Linked DNA regions of Homo sapiens. The protein of the gene in region 1 interacts with the protein of each later gene in a pairwise test. Each region holds a gene or a part of one and is shown in the gene's direction. Other genes may lie near its edges.

Region 1 (7,034 bases):
CCATCTCCCACAACGGTCCCGCATCTTCTGTGGGTTTCTCTCCTCGGTAGACAAGAAAATAAAGCTCCAGTTGTGCCACAAAGCCGCCTCCACAAAGCCTGGGAAAGTAACCAGGCAGTGAGAAAGGCCCTTGAACCTCCAAGTTCAACCACTTCCCTAGGACAATCCTGCAGTGCCTCCTGCTCCCGCTAGGGGGCCGCTCCCCCAACCCCACCCCCGCCCCCACCACCATGATCACCGCCCTCTCAGAGTGGACTCTGCCACGGAGTCACAAGCTGTCCAGAGCAGGGGGCCTTCCCTGCCCCCAGGGGGCATTCGTGACAGTAGTCCGCTGAGGAATGGGCTTAGAGACAAACACTGGGTTAACCAGAAGCAGGGGCTTTTCCCCCCAGGAAATGGTCACAGTGAGGGCAGATGTCCCTTCTCCTACACAACCCTCATCAACCAGATGCAATGAAATGTCCATAGGGCAAAAGAGAGAAAGGAGAGATGGAGCAGCCTGCCTTTATTTTGGTTTTGATGTTATCAAAGTGTTTCGTGCACAAAGTTTAAAAATCAAATACTTTAATACTGAACGCTTATAATGAAAAGTCAGCAGTCTCTTTCCTCATCCCTCCCACTTCCCCCCCTACCAAGTCCCACCCCACCCTCAGAGTCAATAACTTGTAACTTTGTTAACAGCTTCTTCTGTCATTAAGCTCCATTCCCATATGATATTCTTATATTAGTCCTTGAGTTCTCACTTTAAGCGGCTATCAGTTGACTTCTTGTTATAGCAGATGAAGATTTTTTCTTTTTGTTTTTTGTTTTCTTTTTTGAGACGTAGTCTCGCTCTGTCGCCCAGGCTGGAGTGCAGTGGCGCGATCTCGGCTTACTGCAAGCTCTGCCTCCCGGGAAGATTTTTTCTTTTACATCCCCCACTTCGCCTTCTACCATCCTCCCAATATGCTCAATCACAATTTTTGTTAATTCAATAATCAAAATTAGTATGATCATGTACATATTATTTCAAATGCTATGTATTTTACTATGTATTTCCTTTCCTGTTGAATTTTTATTTTTGCTGCAGTTAAAAATGTTCTTGTTTTCTCACTTTAAGAGGGTTTTTCAATTAGAAGTTAGACTTTTCTATAGCTTTTCCTCTCAATTTCTGTATGGTTCCTCCAGTTGGAAGCAATTCTCATGTATGTGACAAATATTTATTGAGCATCTACTTTTGCATATTATTCTACTAGGTGTTAAGATATATAGAAGGGAACCATTCACAGCCGAAAAATTTAGTTGAGAGACAAGAGAAGTACACATACAAAAATAAACAAACAACAGTACAATCAGGAAGCAATCATTCAAGCATTGCTCCAAGTGCTCTGTGGTGTGCGGAATTAATGGTGCCCAGGAGGAATATTCTGGAATCAGAGGCTAGGGCCACAAGAAAGGTTTTTTCTAGAGGATGCCAGGCCTGAACTGGGCTTCAAAGTCTGATTGGAATGTACAGGCAGAGATGGAAAGAGAGAATGTTCCAAGTGAGAGAATCAACAAAGATTTGGTCCATGAACCTCAAACATGCGAAACATCTTTTTAACTGCCCTATGTCTCAACTTCCCCATCATTAAATTAAAAAGTAGAAAGGAGTTTATAACTGGTACTGTGGCCACTAAGGAAGAGAAAATCCCTACTCGTAGAAAATATACCCTGAGCCTGGGAGGTTGAGGCTGCAGTGAGCTGTGATCATGCCACTGCACTCCAGCCTGGGTGACAGAGTGAGACCCTGTCTCAAATTTTTTTTTAAAAAAAAAAGAAAGAAAGGAAAATATACACTGAAGTATTTAGGGGTAAAGGACCAGCCAAAATGTGTGTAACTTACCCTCAAATGGTTCAGGGAAAAAAAAAAAGAGTGTATAGGTATTCCTTGTACTATTTTCATTTTTGGAATTCATTGGAACTTGAGAATTATTGGGAATTATTTAAATTTTTAAAATTAAGGCCGGGTGCGCTGGCTCATGCTTCTGATCCCCGCAATTTGGGAGGCCGAGGTAGGAGGATCACGAGGTCAGGAGATTGAGACCATCCTGGCTAACACAGTGAAACCCCATCTCTACTAAAAATACAAAAAAAATTAGCCAGGCATGGTGGCAGGCACCTGTGGTCCCAGCTACTCGGGAGGCTGAGGCAGGAGAATGGCGTGAACCCAGGAAGCGGAGTTTGCAGTGAGCCGAGATCGCACCACTGCACTCCAGCCTGGGCGACAGAGCGAGACTCCATCTCACAAAAAAAAAAAAAAAAAAAAAAAAAAAATTGAGCAAGACTCTGTCTCAAAGAAAAACAATAATGAGGATATGATGTTAAATGAAAAAAAGGCAAGATATAAAAGTATACATACTGTATAAATGCATTTATCTATATAGGTATAGGAAAAATGGAAGAAACTATAAGTATTTACAGTAGCATGATTAAGGGTAATTTTGTCTTTAACTTTTTTTATATTTTGAAGTTTTCCATACTGAGTATGTATTAATTTTCTAATAGAAATGAAATGAAAATAATTTTCTAATATTTTCTAAAAACATTAAAAATTAGGTTTGGGGAGAAACCTAGGGTTATTTTAAAAGATCAATATAAAATTATATGTGTTTATTCTTTAAAATCATATTCACATCATATTTAAATACAGTGGTTTTATGTTTTCCAAAGTGGAGAAGAACATCTATCCTATAGAGTTATGGGCCAGATTGAATGAAATAATCTGTCAAGTACTTAGCACAGTGCCTGCCCACAATGAACGCTCAGTAGATGTGACTCTAGGATGGGCGGCTATTTCAATAATCCTCACCCCCCTGCCTCCCCTTCGCCAGCCTCTTTGATTGAGAACAGGTTTTATTGGGTATGGCCCATTCTCCCAGCTGGTGCTGGGCCCTGGGTCTTTGGTCCGGGAGGGTGACTGACATGCCTGGCCTCCCTACAGGTGGCGGCGGAGTACTTCAAGAACACCACGCTGCTGCTGGTGGGGGTCATCTGCGTGGCGGCTGCCGTGGAGAAGTGGAACCTGCATAAGCGCATTGCTCTGCGCATGGTCTTGATGGCCGGAGCCAAGCCGGGCATGTAAGTCTTATTTGGGATGCCAGGACATAGGGCATCCTTCTAGCTCCCAGTGTGCCACCAGGACAGTGGTCTCAGGTCACTGCGGGATGTCCACTTCAGCTGTTTTTTTACCAAAGGGTCGGGCTGACACCAGAGCCATAGGACCCGTCCAGGGAGAGGGCCTGTGATCATGGAGTAGAGATTTAAACCTGTGACCTTGCTATCATTATCCAAAGAATTTACCCATTGACCTAGGCTGCAAGGGCAGCAGCTTACAACATATAGGGGCCCATCAGGTAAAACAGGATGGACCAAGAGAAATTGTTTCCCAACCTGTTTCCTGTGTATCAGGGAACAGGCTGGACCGGAAGTGGCTGTCTTCTCCTTTGTCACTGAAGGAGACGGGAATGTTTCCTCCCATCCACCCTGAGTTTTTGTCATCAGTTCAGACCACAGACCCAGTTAGAGACACTGCATTTGACTGTGATGCGGGAGGGAGTCCCACCCTCGGGGAATGTGTTACGGTGTCAAGGTTGAGTTTTGTGTTAGCTTCAGCAATGTTCCATTTGGATTCCCCTGCCTGTACCTTCCCTTTTGGAATATCCTGCTCACCTCCTTCTAGTTTACAACTTTCTTGCTGTATTTTATGTAAGCTGCCCTGACTCCTATGGGAGTCAACACGAGTATAAATAAATAATATAGTATTGGTTCTCAGTATGAGTCATTTAGATGACTATAGGTTATGCTTAAAAGCATGTTCCTGTCTCCCAGATTGTCAAACAGGTCTGATAACTACAGCTTAATCCACCCCCTAACTCAGTAATAATCTTGCCCCTACACTCAACCTCCCAGGCACACAGTGGCATTTCGTCACATCATATGGAGACTCTGTGGCTCTTTAAAATCTCTGTGTACTATCTGCAAGAATTTTTATCCTCTCACATTTCCACTCCTCCCTATTTACATCAGTCAGCAAGTTGCCACCCCCAGAGGCAGTTACCCGTGTAGGTACAGAATTGGCAAAGTCAAGTCGCTGTCAGCCAATGGAGTCCACATGATAAACGTACTGTCCCCAAGTTGTGCAAAGTCAGTGATTCCACCTAAAATAATAAACACAGTAGTCTTTATGTTGGCTTATCTTATGGAAACTAGGACATGTCTGTACAGGCACACATTGCACAACGTTCTCAAAGCCAAAGAGAAATAATTAGAGGGTTAACCTTGTTAGTGTTTTTCTCCAAGTGTTGACGCTTTAAGATGTCAGCTGGAAAAGTGCACACAGTGACACGGGACACTTCTGTGACTTTGGGGGCTATGCCTTCAGCATGTTGACAGGTAGTGGGTGGAACTGTGAGCTCCAAACATTCATCTCTATTGGGTCACTGATATCTATGGTGACTTGGCGGCAAAGCAAGGAGTGCCGTGGCGCTCACAGAATTGCTGGCTGCGAGGGCAAACAAAGTATTGCCTTCCACACACAAACACACATCACCGCCAAGCTCCAGCCAATGTCCGTGGAGACAGAAAAACAATGGTAAGTCTACACCCTGTGGCCCTACTACCAGAGCTATTCTTTGCTTCACTAAGGACTTTTTTCTGGCTAAGGCCGCTAGTCCATGAAGTGTGATTCATTCATTCAAGAAGTATTGCTTTAATACTTACGCTGTGCCAAGCATTGGGAGTACAGAGCTGAATGGCACCCTGCAGGACAAATGCCTGCCTTTCCAGCCACAGCTGTCTAGACCAGCCCCAGCAGGTTGGTAGGAGGCCCACTGTGGAGCCGCAGGGATGTGTGTTCCGTGGACGCTCTGCCCCAACCCTCCCTGCCTTCCAGGCTGCTGCTCTGCTTCATGTGCTGTACCACGTTGCTGTCCATGTGGCTGTCCAACACCTCCACCACCGCCATGGTGATGCCCATCGTGGAGGCCGTGCTGCAGGAGCTGGTCAGTGCTGAGGACGAGCAGCTCGTGGCGGGCAACTCCAACACCGAAGAGGCCGAACCCATCAGTACAGTTTGCTGGAGTTCATCTCTCCTTTGCTCCTCCAACCTCCCCTGGGGTCCTCCTGCCTGGCTCCTCTAGGGAGACTGCCCAACTTTGTGCCCACCCCAGGACCCCCTCAGCCATGCCCCCACATTCCCCTTCCTCTTCCCTCTCTCCTCTTTCCCATCCCAGCTCTTGGACTCTGAAGCTTCCCTGAACTCCCTGTTCTGGCTCTTCCTTCCTCCTTCACTTCTGGGCTCTTTTCCCCCAAATGCTCAAGGGTACACACTGCTCTTTGCCCCCAAATGCTCAAGGATCACTGCAAAACCCTGGGGCCAGTCTGCATCCATGAGCCCCATTCTATTTACAGAGCAAAGGGAAGGAGAAATGTCACCCACTCCATATGGCCCACCTCCGCCCTAAGCCCTTGAGCTATGCTCCAACCCACAGGGTCAGCCCCAGCCTCCACCTCTCACATACTGCTTTTCTTTGCTACTCATAGGTCTGGATGTAAAGAACAGCCAACCTTCTCTGGAACTCATCTTTGTCAATGAAGAGTGAGTATGACTGCCCTCTCCCAGACAGCGCCTCTCAGAGTCCATAGGGGAGGTCAGAAAAGAGGGGACCTAGACCCATAAACAGCTCTTTGAGATGTACCACCCAAGCTCACCACCTTGCCACACCACCCCCCCACCCCGCCCAACCTCCCCCATTTCCTCTCCATACCTAGGAGTGACCTGTCAGGACCTGGAGAGTCACTCCCTTAACCACAGTGTTGCAGTGATGAGGAAGAAATAAAAAGGCCACACTGAATCTCAGTGGATATATGAACTGTCCACACAGCCACCATGCAGAATCTCTTCTAAATTCATGTCCCTTTTAGGAAAATAGTATGTTTAATTTGTTAACGGAAAACCGTTCACATCTCGATGCCACTGCAGATTCTTGGAGAATCATGAAATATTTTCTAGATATTAGATAAGGTCTTGGTAGATTTGGTCTTGTTAGATATGGCAAAGAAAACTTAGGTGACAGGTAGGGGATGAGGGGACAGGAGGTGAGAGGGCCTTGTGATGATGGGAAGCAGAGCTGGAAAAGGAGAAGCAGCCTCAGACATTCCTGGAGGAAGCTCTATTAACAGCTGATTCCATTTGGAGATTCTATTTCAAAATGTGGCCCACAGGCATGCCACAATGAATAGTCCACATTTAAAAGCTGGATTTGTAATACAGCTCAGCTCTGTCATTTGCCCTTGTTGTAAAAAAGGAGAACGCACATTGGGTGAAATCAGCGTTCACAGTGGGACAGACGTGGAAGGGTGCCATCAGGAAATCGCTTTATTTTTCTCCACCACTATCTTCAATCATAGCATATTGGATTTCTTGATGACATCACCCTTGATGATATCCCAGGCAAATCCCGTAGCTCTCCTGGTTCCTTTCAGGTATTATAACAATCTCATGTTCAGACATTTGGGAGACTAGTCCAAATTCAAATCAAAACTTCAACTTCTCAGCCAAAGCTTCTCCCATACCCACCCACCCCTCACCCTAGGCCTGCAGAAGAAAGAAGGTGAAAGTAAGTCGGGGGAGGGAGTTGAGCTTCTTTCTGTCTTCCTCCACCTCCCTCTTCTCCTCCTCCCCTAACCGCACCCTCACTCTGCTGCTTCTGACTTTTCTGGGCTTAGGACAGCAGCTCTAGGGTACAGGAAAGATAAATGGGTGAGAAGGGTCTGGATGGGGGCTATTGAGGTCTGGGGTTGGTGCCCTCTCTGAGATTTCAGTCCCTGGCTCTTTCATCTGTGGGGCAACTGCCTTCAGGGTCTTTGGAGCATCCCATTATGGCGCCCTCTGCAGGGCCTCAGGCCTGATGGCAGGGCCTTGCTCTGGGATTAACACTCACGCCACCCTCCAGGGCCTGTGCTCTGGTGGTTAACTCCCCCACAACCCCTGTATTGGGGCTGCCTCTGCCTCT
Region 2 (4,080 bases), on another chromosome or scaffold:
GACTTCCACTGTCATCAGTTTCCTTGGAAGTTCCCAGTGATGACTAAATTTTCAGAACTGAGCTAATATTTTCCAGCTTGAAGGGAAAAACTAGTAAAACATATTTTAAGGTGTTACATGATCAACTCTGAAAATTACAACTCCATTCATAATGGCAGTCCTATTCAGTACTGTTACAGCACTTCGCAGTTTTGCCAACACTTTCATATGCTTTTTCTAATATAATCCCCTCAATGAAGAAATTGTGACATAGATTAAATTCCTGATGTCATGCAGCAGTTAAGTGATAGGACCAACTTAACACAGGCTTTCTCATTTACAGTCTGTGCCTTTTCTCCTGTACCTCATTATTTAACCTTGTTGATTCACACTAAGTGTCCAAACTGGTAAACCTCCATTAGGTTTATAGTAAGTATATTTAAAGTCATGCAGGCATGAACCTTTATGAAGTCTGGTTTGGATTGTGGGTTATTTTTTTGATCCTTTTAAAAAGATTAACTGTTCTTTCTTCCTTTTACCTTACAGGACCAAGCCATATGTCCTTCTATGTTCGAGCCCACAAAGGGTCAACACTTTCTCAGTGGTCTCTTGGCAATGGCACCCCAGTCACAAGTAAAGGAGGAGACTACTTTGTCTTTTACTCCCATGGACTCCAGGCCTCTGCATGGCAGTTCTGGATAGAAGTGCAGGTGCCAATTTCCCAGCATTGTTTGTTTCATTGATTAGGTTCCCAGGTGGTATTTAGCAAGAACCTTGGGTTCAGTATTCTGGCTTCTGAGAACTGGAGAACTAATTGATTTTCTCTGGCAGGTTTCAGAAGAACATCCTGAAGGAATGGTCACCGTGGCCATTGCTGCCCACTATCTGTCTGGGGAAGACAAGAGATCCCCTCAACTGGATGCTCTGAAGGAAAAGTTCCCAGATTGGACATTTCCCTCTGCCTGGGTGTGCACCTACGATCTCTTTGTATTTTAATCTTGTGGATGAGCTCTAAGTACATGCCCAGTGGATACTCCATGTGACATGGTTTCTCCCTATGTTACGTGGATGTTTGTAACGTAAGTCAATGAATTTTAATGATCATATGTTCAAAGAGCTTTCTGGGTTAACGCTTTTCAGGGCCAAGCACTATAAGGGTTTAGCTGTGGCGCAGTGATGCATGGCCTGTTGACACTTGAAAATGCCAGTCTTTTGGCACTTCAGCACATGTGGGTACTGCCACTACACACACGTCATTTTATATGACCTTAAGGACAAAGCCAACAATCCACTTCAATAGCTGCCCCTTTAGGATCAAGAAAGATGTACACTGTCAGAGCATTGTTAATGAGACAAAAGTTGTTTCCAATTTAAGCCCCAAAACCATTTGTTGTATTAGTGGATGGTGGGTAAAATATCATTCACTGAGGTAATGATTCCCCTTGAGAATATAACTCTGTGTAGGTCACTGGAAAGTGATTGCCATAGGGCTGGGAGAGAAGCATTGCACTCTTGAGGCTGTAGCCTGTGTCAAGCTGTTTCTTCAGGCAGCCTCTCAAATGTGCTTTGTCTCTCTGTGCTGAGGCCTGGACCCTGTGCTGAGCTGGTGACTCACTGTCCTGACAAGTGGACACACAGATGCACTGCTGTGCTGCTTTCCTGAGGTGGTTTTCTATGCCTGTTTTCCTCTGAAACATGTCTGTTACCCCTCTCCATCTTACCAAGTTGAAAAGGGGAATATTTGGCCACATACCCCTCTGGTTTTCGTAGGTTCTTTTGGTTCAGAATATTGTTTGTGCCAGTACATGACCTTAACTTCCTTCCTCAGAGCACTGAGCTGCCATCTGGGCTATTCTGGGGTAGAAGGAAGGCTGGGAGTGGTGGGAATTTTATAAATATTTATTCTCTTTTCTTTGTTTCATAGGAGTCTTGTGTTATACAAGGTTAGTCCTTCATGGTATAATCTTACTGATGCACTGGGCCTATCTTTTTGTTTTCCAGCCAGTTGAATAGATTAGTTTTTCTCAGTAACTTACTATCCAGCAGACTGGCTTTCCTGAGACTTGAGGTTGTGGCTTATACTGGAATGAGACCACTGTACGTGTAGGTGGTTCAGATCCTGCGTAATGGCAGCATGAGGACTTAAAAGGTGGTTTTCATTTTGAAGATGGCTATGTAGCTTGTAAGGTGTATCACAGCAGTACCTCTCATGGCTTTTTGGTTCCAGCAGTGAGGGCATTGGTGAGATCAATGGTAAACTGTGCAAGCTTTCTTTTTATCATTAGGAAATGTGAAACGTTGGACAAATTTTGAGTTTTAACAAGGACAAAAAGTTGAAAGAAAAGGCACAGTTAACAAAAAAGGGTGGCTAGATTTATCTTGGGTGATGGAGGAAATGAGAGAGGAATGCTCTTGAAAGGTGGTCTGTGGATCTGTCTGAATAGAAAGAGCACAGTAAGTATGCATTGCCGGAGAAAACGTCCTTGAAGCTGCTTGTCTCATGTGTATGATGTGCTTTTTAAATCATGCCCCTCGTTGCCTGCCTAATCTGTGACTCCCTAAAAACTAACTGGGCCCATGTAGATGGGGCTGCAACCAGAGCTGAATAACATGTTAGGCTCACACATGCATCAGCACTGCACACTGGAATCATTGCTCTTCCTGGACTTTGTAGAAATCAGTCTCAAGTGCTTCAAGAGTCTGGCTCCTGCTACTTTTATCTGTCAGGTAGCACATAAGGTTTGCAGGGTTTATATTTTGTATAGAATCACAGTTGTGGAGAAAAAGTAATAATTTCTCAATGAATTTTAAAAATGGGCCTATTTTCTATCCCCGTGGTTCATCTGATATAATTAGTGTTCCCTGTGAATTCCCCCCCTCTATGGGAAGGATGCCTTTACTCTTTATCAGTAATAAATTATGACTGTTTTCATATTGCCTTAGGGTTATTTCCCTGTGTAAACCATTGTCTTTTGTTTTGGTTTTCTTTAGCATTATGAAGCTTTGGTATTGTACAAGGTCAGTAGTAAGATGCTCACTAGTCTCAGGGCTTGTGTAATATTCTGGGAGGTCATTTAAATGCCAGAAATGGTCAAGCAATTATACACAGTATTTATGACTCTGTTAAGCATACCGTTTGTCTGTCACATTAGTAGATTCTGAGATTAAAAAAAATTTTTAAAGAGTGATCATTTAAATAATTTCTAAAAGGGTCTTTTCAAGCTCTAACAAAGTCACTAACAAATGCATTATTTTCTACAGAATTAGATGTTAGTAGTACAGTACTGCATATTCAGGGAAAAAGTGTGAGGAATTGATTTCAAAATAGTTCGTTCTTGTGTTTGACCTAAGAATGATTGTCGCATGAAGTGTTTGTTTTTACAGTTTAGCATATATAAACAAACATGATAGGATTCCTTAAGATGTTACCACCCAGGGGGCCACAAGCCAGCCTGCTGTCTCAGGAAGCTGTAGAAGGAGTGTTTGTCAATTTCTTGTCACTGGTTTGCTGACTTACTGAGGATTAATTGTTGCCTTACAATGTTACTGAAATAAACTGTTTAATATACTGGTTGGTATCTTTTTAACTGAAAAACAGATCTGTGTTCTTCTGTATCCCCATATTTTCAAGGGTTATTCCATGTCCACAGAGCCTTTTAATTGCTGTTAAAAGACCTAGATGGCTCATGTGAGCAAAGAACTCAACATGGAAATGTTTACTTCAGTTAGAATCCTTTATCTTAGAATGAAATGGTACTTCTGAATTTCACAGAAATTATTAGGTAAATGTTGAGCTTCACCTATGTAGGAGTTTTAAATCATCCCCATTAGCAAAAAAATAGCAAAGGGTAAAGGGCGTTCTTTTATTTGGGAGTAAGGGTAGGAGGGAGGGAAGAAGTTGCCTTTCAGCCAGAGTGACTCATTGCTTATTCTAATCTCCACAGAAGGAAAGGGCACCACCACTCACCAAAATAGAGCATGAACTTTGAGTTCAGAGATCTCTGTGCAAGTTATTTAAACTTTGAGTGAATTCTCTCAGAACAGTTCAATGCAAGGTGAAGCAGCTGAACAACTTCTAACCTAATACTCCTCTTCTTCTTT
Region 3 (7,886 bases), on another chromosome or scaffold:
TTAGTTATAAGTGAGAACAAAGCATTGGTTACACATGGAAGTAAAGATCGGAACAACAGATACTGGGGACTACTAGAGGGGGAAGGGAAGGTGGGGACAAAAGCCTGAAAAACTATCTATTGGGTATTATGTTTTCTATCTGGGTTACAAGATCATTCATACTCCTCAGCATCACACAATGTGCCAATGTAAAAACCTGCACATGCATCTCCTGAATCTAAAATAAAAGTTGAATTTTTTTTTAAATGGGCAAAGATCTGGCTAACACGGTGAAACCCTGTCTCCACTAAAAAAAAAAAAAAATACAAAAAATACAAAAAATTAGCTGGGCATGGTGGCGGGTGCCTGTAGTCCCAGCTACTTGGGAGGCTGAGGCAGGAGAATGGCATGAACCTGGGAGGTGGAGCTTGCAGTGAGCCAAGATCACGCCACTGCACTCCAGCCTGGGTGACAAAGCGAGACTCCATCTCAAAAAAAAAAAAAAAAAAAAGGGCAAAGATCTGAGTAGACATTTCCCAGAAGAACAGATACAAATGGCCAACAAATATATGAAAAAATTCTTACCGTCTCTAATCATCAGGGGGATGTAAATAAAAAAACCACCATGAAATATCATCTGATACCTCTTAGAATAGCTATTATCAAAAAGATGTATAACAAGTATTAGTGAGGATGTGGAGAAAAGATAACCCTTGTATACTTGTGGTGGAAATACAAATTACTATGTCCATTTCAGATAATAGTATGAAGGTTTCTCAAAAATTTTTTAAATAAAACTACCTGCTGATGAGGCTGTTGAGATATAAGAACACTTTTACACTGTTGGTGGGAATGTAAATTAGTTCAACTATTGTGGAAGACAGTATGGTGATTCCTCAAAGACCTACAACCAGAAATACCACTTGACCCAGCAATCCCATTACTGGGTATATACCAAAAGGAATATAAATCATTCTATTATAAAGATACATGCATACATATGTTCATTGCAGCACTATTCACAATAGCAAAGACATGGAATCAACCCAAATGTCCATCAGTGACAGACTGGATAAAGAAAATGTGGTACGTATACACCATGGAATACTATGCAGCCGTAAAAAGGAATGAGATCATGTTCTTTGCAGGAACATGAATGGAGCTGGAAGCCATTATCCTCAGCAAACTAACCCATGAACAGAAAACCAAACACTGCACGTTCTAACTTATAAGTGGGAGCAGAACAGTGAGAACACATGGATATTAGGAGGGGAACAACACACACTGGGGACTGTTGGGAGGCAGGTGGAGGAAGAGTATCAGGATAAATGGCTGATACATATATGCAATGGAATATTATTCAGTGTTACATAATAATGAAACCCTGTCATTTGTGACAACATGGATGGACTTGGAGGGCATTACGTTATATGAAATAGGCCAACCACAGAATGACAATTACTATATGATTTCACTTGTATTTGAAATCTAAAATAGAAAAACTCACAAAAGCAGAGAGTAGAATGGTGGTTGCCAGGGGCCGTGGTGCTGGGGAAATGGGTAGATGTGGTTACAGCACAAAGTTTCAGATATACCACATAAGTAAGTTCTGGAGGTCTCGTTTACAGCATAGTGCTTACAGCTAAGAATACTGTATTACACACTTAAAATTTGCTAAAAGGATAGATTTTGTATTCTTACCAATATTTGTTACCAAAAAAATAATAATAATAAAGGGGGGGGACTTAGGGAGGTGAAGGATATGTTTATAATCTTGATGGTAGTGATGTGTTCATGGTGTATACTTATCCCCAAACTCACTGAGATGTACACCTTAAATATGTACAGCTTTTTAAATGTAATCATAGCTCAACAAAGTCAGTTAAAAAAAAACAAGAGGGGTTGGTTAAAATACTTAAAAGGAGGGGTAGATGCTCCCTTGTTTTTCTCTCTTGGCTTTTTTCCTTCCTGCTGCCTGGAATTCAAAAATGATAGGTGGGGATTTGGCAGCCAAACTAGAGCCTCTTCTAAAGTATAGCAGAACAGAGAGCTGGAAGGGGCCTGCATCCCTAATGAATTTGGCAGGTATCTGTATTAGCCATGGTAGGTAGAACTATAGATTTAAGTGAGGGAGAAACCAACTTCTGCCTTGTTTAAGCCAGTTTGTTCAGACATTAATTTTATATACATATAGAGAACATATGCTCCTTTATGAGTAGGAAAAATGTTTATGCCATATGGTCCGTGATGGGTGTTCAACAATGTAGGATGAGGCTGATTATGATGACAATGGTGACAAATAGCATGAAATAATAAGCAATGAAAAAAAGATGGCCTAATAGTTCTGTATGGTTACTTTATTTAAAGATTCTGCTGCTAATATCATTCAATGTATTTGTATGCTGGTGGGAGTTTTATTAGATGTAGACTAAGAAAGTTTACATTATTTAATGAAAAATACTTGACCACCTCTCCCTCTCCCTCCCTCTCCCCCTCCCCCTCCCCTCCCCCTCTCCCTCTCCCTCTTTCCACGGTCTCCCTCTGATGCCGAGCCAAAGCTGGACTGTACTGCTCCATCTCCGCTCACTGCAACCTCCCTGCCTGATTCTCCTGCCTCAGCCTGCCGAGTGCCTGCGATTGCAGGCACGTGCAGCCACGCATGACTGGTTTTCGTATTTTTTTGGTGGAGACTGGGTTTCGCTCTGTTGGCCGGGCTGGTCTCCAACTCCTAACCACGAGTGATCTGCCAGCCTCAGCCTCCCGAGGCGCCGGGATTGCAGACAGAGTCTTGTTCACTCAGTGCTCAATGTTGCCCAGGCTGGAGTGCAGTGGCGTGATCTCGGCTCACTACAACCTCCACCTCCAAGCCGCCTGCCTTGGCCTCCCAAAGTGCCAAGATTGCAGCCTCTGCCCAGCCACCACCCCGTCTGGGAAGTGAGGAGTGTCTCTGTCTGGCCGCCCATCATCTGGGATGTGAGGAACCCCTCTGCCCGGCTGCCCAGTCTGGGAAGTGAGGAGTGCCTCTCCCCGGCCGCCATCCCGTCTAGGAAGTGAGGAGCGTCTCTGCCCAGCCGCCCATGTCTGAGATGTGGGGAGCACCTCTGCCCCGCCACCCCGTCTGGCATGTGAGGAGCACCTCTGCCCGGCAGCCGCCCCATCCGGGAAGTGAGGAGCGTCTCCGCCCGGCAGCCGGCCCGTCCGGGAGGTGGGGGGCAGCCCCCACCCATCCAGCCTCCCCGTCCGGGAGGGAGGCGGGGGGCAGCCCCGGGGGCAGCCCCCGCCCGGCCAGCCGCCCCGTCCGGGAGGGAGGTGGGGGGCCGCCTCCGCCCGGCCGCCGCCCCGTCTGGGAGGTGGGGGGCGCCTCTGCCCGGCCGCCCCTTCTGGGAAGTGAGGAGCCCCTCTGCCCGGCCGCCACCCCGTCTGGGAGGTGTACCCAACAGCTCATTGAGAATGGGCCATGATGACGATGGCGGTTTTGTCGAATAGAAAAGGGGGAAATGTGGGGAAAAGATAGAGAAATCAGATTGTTGCTGTGTCTGTGTAGAAAGAAGTAGATTTAGGAGACTCCATTTTGTTCTGTACTAAGAAAAATTCTTCTGCATTGGGATGCTGTTGATCTATGACCTTACCCCCAACCCGGTGCTCTCTGAAACATGTTTTGTGTCCACTCAGGGTTAAATGGATTAAGGGCGGTGCAAGATGTGCTTTGTTAAACAGATGCTTGAAGGCAGCATGCTCGTTAAGAGTCATCACCACTCCCTAATCTCAAGTAACCAGGGACACAAACACTGCGGAAGGCCGCAGGGTCCTCTGCCTAGGAAAACCAGAGACCTTTGTTCACTTGTTTATCTGCTGACCTTCCTTCCACTACTGTCCTATGACCCTGCCAAATCCCCCTCTGCAAGAAACACCCAAGAATGATCAATAAAAACAACAACAACAAACAACAAAAAATACTAGACCAATTTTAAAAAAAATAAAAATATCATGAGATGGAACTAAGCATCTGTATTGCAAAGTAACTCTCCCAGTTGATTTTCTGCATAGTAATGATTGAGAATCCCCTGATCTAGATCCAACAGATCTCGACCTTTATAGACGCTATCAAGGAAGCACCTAAGGAAGACAATTTTCCTGACTATATCCATACCTCCAGTTAGTAATAGATCTAGAGATCTAGAATCCAAATCCAGACCTCCTGCCTCCATGTGCGGTGGTCTTTCACTGTTGTTTTGTTCCACTTGGTGAAGAGGATTTGAGAATAAATAGCCACATGATTCAACTCCCTCCTCAGTTCTGAGTAATATAGTCTTGTCCTAGCAAGCAAGAAGCTCATACAGTAGTGGATGAGGCAAATATACATTCACTAATCTAACATACAAGGCAGTAAGTACTGTAACATAAACAAAGCACTTTGGACTTTCAGACCAGGAGAAAGTGGGGTGATTAATTCTTAGCAGGGCAAGTAAAGTCTGGGAAGTGTTCACTAACAAAATGTCTGGTCATTAATGAAACCAACTGGTTTCTCAACACAGTCTAATTTATTGTAACAATATAAATGGTTGTTTGTTCATAAACTTTCATCTTTTGCCAAAATGTTTGTAGCTTATGTCCCCATTTAACAAGGTTTTATGGCCAAAACTGTGCACCCACATCATACTAATGAACTGGCTGTCCAATAAAAAAAGGACTCTCAGTCTTCCCATAAAAGCAATTTTGCATGCATAGAACACGTCTATCTATGAATATGCCTAATGAGGTACACAAAGACTCTTATTATCCAAACAGAGACATTCCACTGGTGCTAGACAGCCACAGATGGAAGTTTTCTCTGCCTCCTGGAAATGAAGACAAACTTTTTTCTTTCTTCAGCCATGAGGATTGCTGTCCTCCTCTTCGCCATTTTCTTCTTTATGAGCCAAGTTCTACCAGGTAACAAAATAAACTTGGTAAGAGTAGAGTGCCTAACACCTTACAGGGATTCAATACTCAAAGAGAAATCACCATCACCTATAACCAGAAAAGGGGGTCTCATAGGAAATCTGGAAGACTCATTGGCTGAGAGGCCTGCAGCCATCTAATTCATTAATTCTCCATAGCAACTCAGTTAAATGAAGTCAATGGTGTTTCAAGTCTTTGAAACCCTCTTATTCCATCTCCAAATTAGGCAAGTTTACTAGCAGTTACTAGACATCAAAAATTAAAAATCAGGCATTATTCTACTAAATCTTGGTCTCCAAAGCTCCTCTAGTTTCCTTCAGCAACAGTTAGTTTTCCTAAGAACTGGCATAAGAGCTATGCCAAAGCTGTGGTAGGCTCAGACAGAAGGGATTGGTGGAAGAAGTCTCTTTGAAAATATTATTATAATCTAAGAAATCTTTAACCTATTGCTCCCCAATACTGTTGGTCACTGGGGCTTGACTTTTCCCCTTAAGGCTCCATCTCCATCCCTGGCTTTCCCTCTTCCTTCTCAGCATCTAGTCTTGTAATGTAGAATTTAAACACAGGAACCAGGGATGACCCCACACCAGGGCATAGCCTACTGCATTCAGCATGCAAACATTAATCACAGGTATAAGGCCCCTTGCACAGACATGCTTTGGAGAAGTGTGTCTAGGACTTCTTGGATTTGCCCATGGTGGTTACCAGACACCCAAAATAGATCCAAAAATTTTCTGGAACTCCTGAACATGTGTATTCAAGGATGAATAAGCAACTTATTGCCTCTATTTTTGCTGTTTTATAGAGAAAAAAATTAAGGCCCTGGAAACTGAAGTGCTTTTCTCAACAGTGGGGTAAATGTCAGAGTCAACACTTTGTTTTAATATCCTGGCTTTCCCTAATACATCCCACCCTGGAGTTCTGTTGTGCCGTTCCTTTGTGTGACTTCCTAAAGCCTGAAAAAAGGTGATACCATATCCAATTATATTAACTCGGTAGCACACAACATCGGGGACTGACTTATAAGATTATTATCCTTGTGGCATTACTGAATTCCTAGTACTTGTTAAATAGTCACCCTGGCTAAATACATGGGTTTGATTTTTTTAACCAGTTAAAAATATTTTAAAATATGTGTCTTACATATATAACCCCAGAAAATCAATGCTTTTAATCAAGGTTTAAAAATTCCAAATTTGGATAAACAAATTTTTTTTGTTGTTTTCATTGTCACTCAATCAAAATAGAAGCAACTAATTGGATAGAACAGCACAGGCAGAAGCATTACTCACAGTCAAAAATGGGATGCAACAAGACTGGAGAAGAAAACACAGGATGGTGCTAAAGAATGCAGCCTAATGAAAGGTGGCACCTCCTCTGGATGTCCTTAGGTAGACATTGAAGCAGAACTGCAAACTTTTTGTAGAAGGCTAGAGAAGAGAGGAGGACACAGAGAGAGGGCAAGAGTGGAAAATAGAATGAGGCTCAGAATACCAAGCCTTAGTGCCATCCCTATCATCTGTCTCACTCCATCACTGGGTGATCTTGAGCAAGTTTCTTTCTTTCCGTCAGCTTATTTCCTCATCTTTAAGGTAAGCGACTAGACAAGACAGCCTATGATGTTCATTGTAACTCTAGCTTTTGTTCCTAAAGCAAATAGCTGGAAAAGACATAGTGTCCACAATATGCAATACACAAGGTTTACAAGCAAAGAACAAATGAAAACAAAAGATTTTTAAAATCCCTAATGTTACTTGAATTCTTGTAAATGAACAATGGTACATCATAATTTTAAAAAGCCCTTTGTAATTTCAATTTTTTAAAATAATTTCAACCTTTATTTTAGATTCAGGGAGTGCATGTGCAGATTTGTTACATGGGTATATTGTGTGATATTGAGGTTTGGGGTATGAATAACTCTGTCACGCAGGTAGGGTGTACCTAAAGGGTAGCTTTTCAGACTTTACTCCCTCTCCCTCCCCTCCTGGTAAGTCCCAATCTCTCTTGTTCCCATTTTTATGTCCATGTGCACTTATTGCTCGGCCCCCCCTTATAACTGAGAATATGTGGTATTTGGCTTCCTGTTCCTGAGATAATTTGCTTAGAATAAAGTCCTCCAGCTGCATCCATGTTACTGAAAAAGACACAGTTTTGTTCTTTTTATGGCTGCATAGTATTCCATGACATATATGTACTACATTTGCTTTATTCAATCCACTGTTGATGAACACCTAGTTTGATTCCATACCTTTGCTACTGTGAATACCACTGTGATGAACATACAAATTTAGGTCTTTTTACAAGACTGATTTATTTTCCTTTGGATATACACCCAGTAGTGAGATTACTGGGTCAAATGGTAGTTCTGTATTAAGTTTCTTGAAAAGTGGTTTGAAAATATAATGCTCAATAGAATCAGGTATAGTAACATAGTACACATGATTCAAAGACCTGTGAACCGAGAGTAACAACAAATTTCTGCACAAACATATTGCAAGTTAGAAAACAGCTGTATTTTAATCAATTATTCCACAATCATTTACTGAATAGCTATTATAAGCCAAGACTTTAATCAGATTCTGGAATATACATACAGAGGAGAATAAGATATGATTCCTGCCCTCAAGAAATTCATTATCAAGAATTGAGGTCAGATGAGAAAACACCACCCGTAGTAGAATGCAAGAAGTACTACCACAGAGGGATGTTCAAGAGTGATTTATCACATATCACAAGACAGGTCAGTGGTTCATCCTCTACACTATACTAATCTCTTATGACTCTTCCAGCTGCAAAGGGCCAATTTTAGCACAAGGCCAGTGGGCTTGGGTACTACTATACGTAGTAGCTGACTACTTACAGATAAAAGGAAGAGATGGAAAGCTCAGGGATCAAAAAACTCAGATTTCAGCTTGTTTCTACTAAGTGACCAACATCTAGAATTATCATTGTCTTCAAAAAAGCAT

Evidence for each region.
Region 2: the proteins of SLC13A4 (region 1) and ERMP1 interact in binary tests that used the Homo sapiens proteins (3 or more experiments, as listed by UniProt).
Region 3: the proteins of SLC13A4 (region 1) and DEFB108B interact in binary tests that used the Homo sapiens proteins (3 or more experiments, as listed by UniProt).

Annotation. Positions count from the first base shown.
Region 1 is NC_000007.14:135,704,179-135,711,212, reverse strand, and holds part of SLC13A4 (solute carrier family 13 member 4), read left to right. Parts: intron 1-2,616; exon of another isoform or gene 2,617-2,962; coding exon 2,963-3,099; exon of another isoform or gene 3,100-4,403; coding exon of another isoform or gene 4,404-4,612; intron 4,613-4,740; exon of another isoform or gene 4,741-4,912; coding exon 4,913-5,085; exon of another isoform or gene 5,086-5,562; coding exon 5,563-5,617; exon of another isoform or gene 5,618-7,034. UniProt on the Homo sapiens protein: Sodium:sulfate symporter that mediates sulfate reabsorption in the high endothelial venules (HEV).
Region 2 is NC_000009.12:5,784,039-5,788,118, reverse strand, and holds the end of ERMP1 (endoplasmic reticulum metallopeptidase 1), read left to right. Parts: intron 1-525; coding exon 526-689; intron 690-810; coding exon 811-975; 3' UTR 976-3,547; downstream 3,548-4,080. UniProt on the Homo sapiens protein: Within the ovary, required for the organization of somatic cells and oocytes into discrete follicular structures.
Region 3 is NC_000011.10:71,828,347-71,836,232, forward strand, and holds the start of DEFB108B (beta-defensin 108B precursor), read left to right. Parts: upstream 1-4,853; coding exon 4,854-4,911; intron 4,912-7,886. UniProt on the Homo sapiens protein: Has antibacterial activity.